2 linked regions of the Homo sapiens genome follow. The protein of the gene in region 1 purifies or fractionates together with the protein of each later gene. This does not show direct contact. Each region holds a gene or a part of one and is shown on either strand. Other genes may lie near its edges.

Region 1 (3,180 bases):
CTCCCAGGTTCAAGCAATTCTCCTACCTCAGCCTCCTGAGTAGCTGGGATTACAGGCGCCCACAACCATGCCGGGCTGATTTTTTATTTTTTAGTGGAGACGGGGTTTCACTATGTTAGCCGGGCTGGACTGGAACTCCTGACCTCAAGTGATCTGCCCACCTCAGCCTCCCAAAGTGCTGGGATTATAGGCGTGAGCCGCCATGCCTGGTCGAAAAGTCCTTACTTTCTAAAATTAAGGATATATCCTATAACTGCATGGATCAAGACAGAAATATGTAAAAATAATTGAAAAAATGCAGAACATAAAAAAAAAGGATCTAACAATTAGCTAGGCATGATGGTGCCCACCTGCAGTCCTAGCTACTCAGGAGGCTGAGGTGGAGCGATGGCTCAAGCCAGAAGTTCGAGGTGATAATGAGCTATCATTGCACCACTGAACTCCAGCCTGGGCAACAAAGTGAGAGCCCTGTCTCCTAAAAAAAAAAAAAAAAAGCATCTAACACTGACAGTGATCACATTCAGAAGTGAAGTGATGATGTGGTTAAAATTAAGAAGTTCTCTCAATTCCTTTTGTGTCAAACACTTAAGGGTGCAGTAAAAAAAGATAATTTTGCAAAAAGTGAAAATTCTTTTCTTTTATTTTTTTGAGACAGAGTCTTCCTCTGTTGCCCAGGCTGGAATGCAGTGACATGATCTCGGCTCACTGCAACCTCTGCCTCCCAGGTTCAAACGATTCTCCTGCCTTAGCCTCCCGAGTAGCTGGGACTACAGGGGACTACAGGCGCATGCCACCATGCCCAGCTATTTTTTTTGGTATTTTTAGTGGAGACGAGGTTTCACCGTGTTAGCCAGGATGGTCTCGATCTCCTGACCTCGTGATCCACCTGCCTCAGCCTCCCAAAGTGTTGGGATTACAGGCATGAGCTACCGCACCCAGCCAAATTCTTTTAATTCTTTAGACATAGGTTAGAGGGGGAACAGTGCTTAAAATTCCATGGAACTAAGATTTTTTTTATTTTTATTTTTTTGAGACAGAGTCTTGCTTTGTTGCCCAGGCTGGAGTACAGTGGCGCAATCTCAGCTCACTGCAACCTCTGCCTCCTGGGTTCAAGTGATTCTCCTGCCTCAGCCTCCCGAGTAGCTGGATTACAGGCACCCACCAACACACCCAGCTAATTTTTTTATCTTTAGTAGAGACGGGGTTTCACCATGTTGGCCACGCTGGTCTCGAACTCCTGACCTCAGGTGATCTGCCCGCCTCGGCCTCCCAAAGTGCTGGGATTACAGGTGTGAGCCACCGTGCCTGGCGGAACTAAGATTAAAGCAAAGACCACGATCAATTACTTAACAAGAACACCACATTTTGATGCTGTCTACAGGGTCATTTTTTTCTTGTCAGGAAAATATCTGATCTGATTCTTCCCAGCTTGCTTCCCCTACAACTTAATAAGCCCTTCACTAACCCCTGTATGTATTAACTGCAATTGCCTAGCCCGGCATTTACACTCTCAAAAGATTTAACGCAATTACAATCAAAAAACACTTGTCATATATAACACTTTTTCACATGGAAATAAATGGTGGTTTAAGGTTTACAATTCCTTTGAATAAAATTTCAGTTATTAGTTACAAAATGCTAAGACAGATTGAGGTCTCAAAGAAAGAACTTGAGAAAATTATGTTTTAAAGGACTTCACAAATATGAAGCATAATTGTTAGAATCCTGATACAAAGTAACTTTTCCTAGGTTTAAGGTTCAAGTCTGAATTCTTGAATTGTCCAGCATCAACGAGACCTCATTTATATTCTTTTTATTTTATCATTACTTTCAGATTCAGGGTCTCTCGCTATTTTGCCCAGGCTGGACTCCTGGGCTCAATGGATCCTCCCTGCCTCAGCCTCCTGAGTGGCTGGGATTACAGGCATGCACCATGCCCGGTGCTACAAATTTTTTTTTAAAAAAGCTCGGAAACACAACGGGCTTGCATCGTGTTGGCAGCAGGTGCCTCTTAGCTGGTGCTGGACAGAAGGGGCTTGCAGTATTTGCACTGAATCCAAACCCGGTACATTGTCAGTTGCTTCCCTCGGTTCACCTGCAGTCGGCGGTCCACCAGATTCTGAACTTTTTCCAGTCCAGCAGTGGTGAAAAGCGTGTCCAGTTCCTCTAGTGTGGAAAATAAAAGATGTTTATGCATTTTCCCCTCAAGAAAAGGCATTTTTATCTACTAAGTCCTTGTTAAATGGGGCTCTGGGAAGTTGCTGTCGTGTTTTTTACATGGCCATTTGGTTATAAATGCAGTGGTGGCTTGGTAACAACAAGTTCATGTTTAGGTAGGGGAAGCCACTGTGTATAGGCCGCGGTTTTTTCTTTTTTAAAAACCTTTGGTTTATATTTGGCCTTTAGGCTCTATGAACACCTTAAAATTTATGCAAAACTATCTACGTATGTCAAAGCAATTGCTTTAGGAAAGAGGTTTCATCATCTTAACCAAAGGCTCAAAGAAGGTGACCCTAAAAAGGGCCCAGGAACAGAAGGCCCAAGTGAAGGATGAAGCCTGTGGATGGGCCAGTTGCAGAGGAGAGCAGTTCCCGGCACCCCTAGAACCCAGGGTTCACCCTGACCCAGGCACACCAAAGCACAACCCCGTGTAGAGGGTGAGACAGGCTGGACTGGAGGTGAGCCTTGCAGAGTGGGCAGGCTTCCCATTTTGGACAGTGGCAGACAGGGAGAGCAGAGCAGGACTGAAGGCATGGACAAGCCAGGGCTGCCTGGGGGCCCGAGTGGCTGGCTGCCATGGGTAGCCTAGCCCAGGGTGGAAGAGGGTGTGAGCAGCGGGGAACCGAAGGAAACAGCCTGCCTAAAAGGCAGGAGGGGCCAGATAGTTTTCCTTCTGAATGTGCCTTGAAGACCATCTGGTACTGGGGACTTTTAGCGTAAAAAGATGAGTGTTTCATACCTTGTGTGAAGAAGTAAACTCTGGTTCCATCACCTCTCACATAGAAATTTCCAGATAGACACTGACCTGCAGAGTGATGTATTAAAAATCAGAGACACTTTAAAGTGTCTCTTTGACTTGCACTGCTAAGGAATGTTAACTGAGAGGCCAGTTTGTTGGGTGGAGAGCACTCCTGCCTCAGTGCTTCGGGAAGAGCAGCTCAACGGGAGTAAGTCACAATG
Region 2 (3,503 bases), on another chromosome or scaffold:
GTGTAAATCATTATATATTGTAAATCATTGTGTGTGTGTATATCTCTTTCTCATTTTATATATATATGTATATGTATATACATATATATAGAGAGAGATACCTGTCAGATATGCTTCAAGAACAAGTATGTCTTTATTACCATTAATTCTTTCATCAACTAGCTGAGCATATTTAGCAAAGACTTAATCAGGTCGTGCACCGTGGCTCACGCCTGTAATCCCAGCACTTTGGAACCCGAGGTGGGCAGATCATGAGGTCAGGGGTTCGAGACCAGCCTGGCCAACATCATGAAACCCCATCTCTGCTAAAAATACAAAAATTAGCTGGGTGTGGTGGTGGGCACCTGTAATCCCAGCTACTAAGGAGGCTGAGGCAGGAGAATCACTTGAACCCAGGAGGCGGAGGTTGCAGTGAGCCGAGATTGCACCACTGCACTCCATCCAGCCTGGGCAACAGAGCAAGACTCTGTCTCGGAAAAAAAAAAAAAAAAGACTTAATCAACTTCCTCTAGATAAATTAATTTTTATCAGATTTATCGATGGTGGGAGCCTAGGAAGGAGAAAGTACACATTTACACTTCTCTATTTCCCACATTGTGTAAAATATTCAAAGGTAAGGACAGGTGGTCTCATTCTGCTGTGCTTCTCCCATGGCATCTACTGTGACATCTGACATAATTATTTGCATAAATACTGTCTTAAGAGATCAATATTGACTCTATTTTGAGTTACTGCCATGTCTACCCCAAATAGCAAAATATATGGATAAAAATAAAAATATTCAGTTGGTTACTGCGATTCAATCCAAATATTGAGCTAACATTAGAAGTGACTATACAAAATCTGGAAGAAAATAAAGATGGATAAGACATGGCACCTGTCTCTATGGGCCTCAGAATTTATTGGGAAAGACAGATTGACAAACTATTCACAACAATTTGGCACAAATCAGTCTATGTAAGTGCTATGGAATAAAAGTGTGAAACACTAAACAGAAGCACTTTTTAAAAAAAAAAAAAAATCAAAGTCCTTTTAAATCTGAGTCTAGTTTCTTTCTCTCCACAGTCTTTGACCAGCAATGTGCTTAGGGATCTCAGGATCAGAAGCCAGACCAGCCAGAATCCTCAGTACTCAAGAGCTTTAAGACCTTATGCCAGAGCCCAATGTTACTCCAAAACCTTGGCAAGAAAGGTGCACTGAGATTTCAAACTCCGGAATCTATCTCTACCCTTTGTCTGATTGGGAAGTGCTTTGAGACTGCAAGCCTAGGTTCTTTGCCTGCTTCTTTCCAGGACCTCACATGTCCCAATTTGCCTGGGATAGTGTCAATTTAAACCATTTGTCTTGGTGTTTAAATGTTATGATAGTCTGTTTCTCTCAAATTTGGATAAAAAACTATGTAGTCACCTTACTGATGAACAAAGTGCTGTGCAGACTTAACCCAGGATTCTATTTACCCACAATTGCTAAGTAATAAATTATTCTAAAATCTTAGTATCAGGTTTTTTTTTTTTCTATTCACATACTCCTATCACTAAAACAGTATTTGTGTGCAAAAGCCATTATCTTGAGATGTGGCCATAGTTGAACATTAGCTGATACAGTTTTATCTTCTTGTGCCACTTGGAACTACAAAGACAGCAAATAAAAAAAGAGTAACATGTATTTGAATATATACACCTTGAAATCCATTACAGTTTCAATGTACCATTTATGTATTGTTTACCTGTTTATTGGTGTCAGCCACAGTTTCATCCTGAAGAAACTCACTTGGTACCTCAAGTTTTATTAAAAAACGAGCTAAATATGCTCTTTTCTTCAGTTCATTAGTCCTCTGAAGAAGCCAGTGGAGCACTGGGTAAATTACAGGTTTACTTCCAATCACCAAACCCTGACGAAAAGTACTCCTAAGAGAGAAACACACATACACAAACACACACGCACTTAACGGTAAACTTTGAAGAGAGACAGCATTTTCTCAAAATCTGATTTACAATGTCCAAATTGCTTTCTGTAACTTTTTAAAAAAGATAAACCCAAGGAATCTTTTTTTTTTTTTTTTTTTTTTTTGAGACAGGGTCTCACTTTATTGCCCAGGCTTGAGCACAACGCAGCTCACCAAAGCCTTAACCTCCTGGCTCAGGTGAACCTCCCACCTTAGCCTCCCAAGTAGCTGGGACTAGAGGCACCAACCACCATGCCCAGCTGATTTTTTGTTGTTGTATTTTTTGTAGAGGCAGCGTTTCGCCATGTTGCCCTGGCTGGTCTCAAACTCCTGAGCTCAAGTGATCCTCTCACCTTGGCATCTCAAAGTGCTAGGATTACAGGTGTGAGCTACCATGCCTGGCCCCAAGGCTATTCTAAAGTCAGTCTGTACATTAGTTAGAAAATTAGAAAAATTTGGCCCTCAATATATCATTGGCATATCCAAGGAAGTTGTGTTTAAGCTGTTTTTATCTAGGATGGCAGATAAAGGATAAAATGGTATAGTGGATTTACCAGACAGTTTGATTAAGGCAAAGAACTGACCCTCTTAAGACTTCTGAGTTTGTTTATAGAAGGTTTAAGATTATTTTGAAACTCAGTGATGTTCTCAGGCCATCAAATGAGGGAAACCAGGTATTACCTACAAAGATTGATTGCAGTATATGAAGGTTTGGATATTAAAGCATAATTTTAAAAACTCAATACGTGATCAGATTCTTACATATCTGTGGCATTTCCTGAAGGTTTGTACTTAAGAATACCAAGAAGGCTCAACATTCGTTTGGCTGTCTGCTCTGGCATCTCCTCTCTGATATCCACAAGTTGCTAACAAAGAAATTGAAAAAAACATGTTATTGTTGTATATGTAACAAAGGACAATATTTAAACTCACTGACAAAATTGTTCTGCTAGAGCTTAACAGCACAATGGTCTCTTCATAAAACAGATTAAGGATGGAGGCCCCCAGATTCCAAGTGAGGGTACACCCAAGTCAGATCAAGATTCACATTAAGAATGTTAAGCTTCAAAAAAAGTATCCAGTGGAATGGACCAGTGTATGAGAGACATGAACTAACTTGCAATACAATAAAACCTTTTGTAAAAGAATTTTCATTCCCTAACCAAACCTATTTATGTCTGGAAGTGGATAAATAATTTTGAAATAAGGTACCAATAGATAATTTATTTTTGAGCTAGCAGAGAAATGTTATGCATTATTTACTATTACTTTACAGACATGGAAAATAAAGCTCAGAGAGGTTAAATAATGTGCCCAAGACTCACAGCTATTTAGAGGGAGAAATTGGCTTTCTGCTACCCATCAAAAAGAAAGAGAAAACTCTTACCTTTGGGTCAATCTCAGCCAGAACATCACTGAGAACTTGTAATAGTTGCATTGGCTCCAAGGAATCAAACGTGATTAAATTATAGTTCTTCCTAAAGGGCTCCTTATTGAGACTGTCCATAATGAATTTAATTTGATCACTCATAATTAGGTCTTATAATTTTAACTAAAG

What was found. The genes of interacting proteins can lie anywhere in the genome.
Region 2: the proteins of METTL2B (region 1) and IFT81 purify together in Homo sapiens (pull-down; one large-scale study listed by IntAct). This does not show direct contact.

Annotation. Positions count from the first base shown.
Region 1 is NC_000007.14:128,500,748-128,503,927, reverse strand, and holds part of METTL2B (tRNA N(3)-cytidine methyltransferase METTL2B), read right to left. Parts: intron 3,026-3,180; coding exon 2,960-3,025; intron 2,167-2,959; coding exon 2,012-2,166; 3' UTR 1-2,011. UniProt on the Homo sapiens protein: S-adenosyl-L-methionine-dependent methyltransferase that mediates N(3)-methylcytidine modification of residue 32 of the tRNA anticodon loop of tRNA(Thr)(UGU) and tRNA(Arg)(CCU).
Region 2 is NC_000012.12:110,127,354-110,130,856, reverse strand, and holds part of IFT81 (intraflagellar transport protein 81 homolog), read right to left. Parts: intron 3,498-3,503; 5' UTR 3,477-3,497; coding exon 3,333-3,476; intron 2,812-3,332; coding exon 2,708-2,811; intron 1,908-2,707; coding exon 1,727-1,907; intron 1-1,726. UniProt on the Homo sapiens protein: Component of the intraflagellar transport (IFT) complex B: together with IFT74, forms a tubulin-binding module that specifically mediates transport of tubulin within the cilium. Binds tubulin via its CH (calponin-homology)-like region.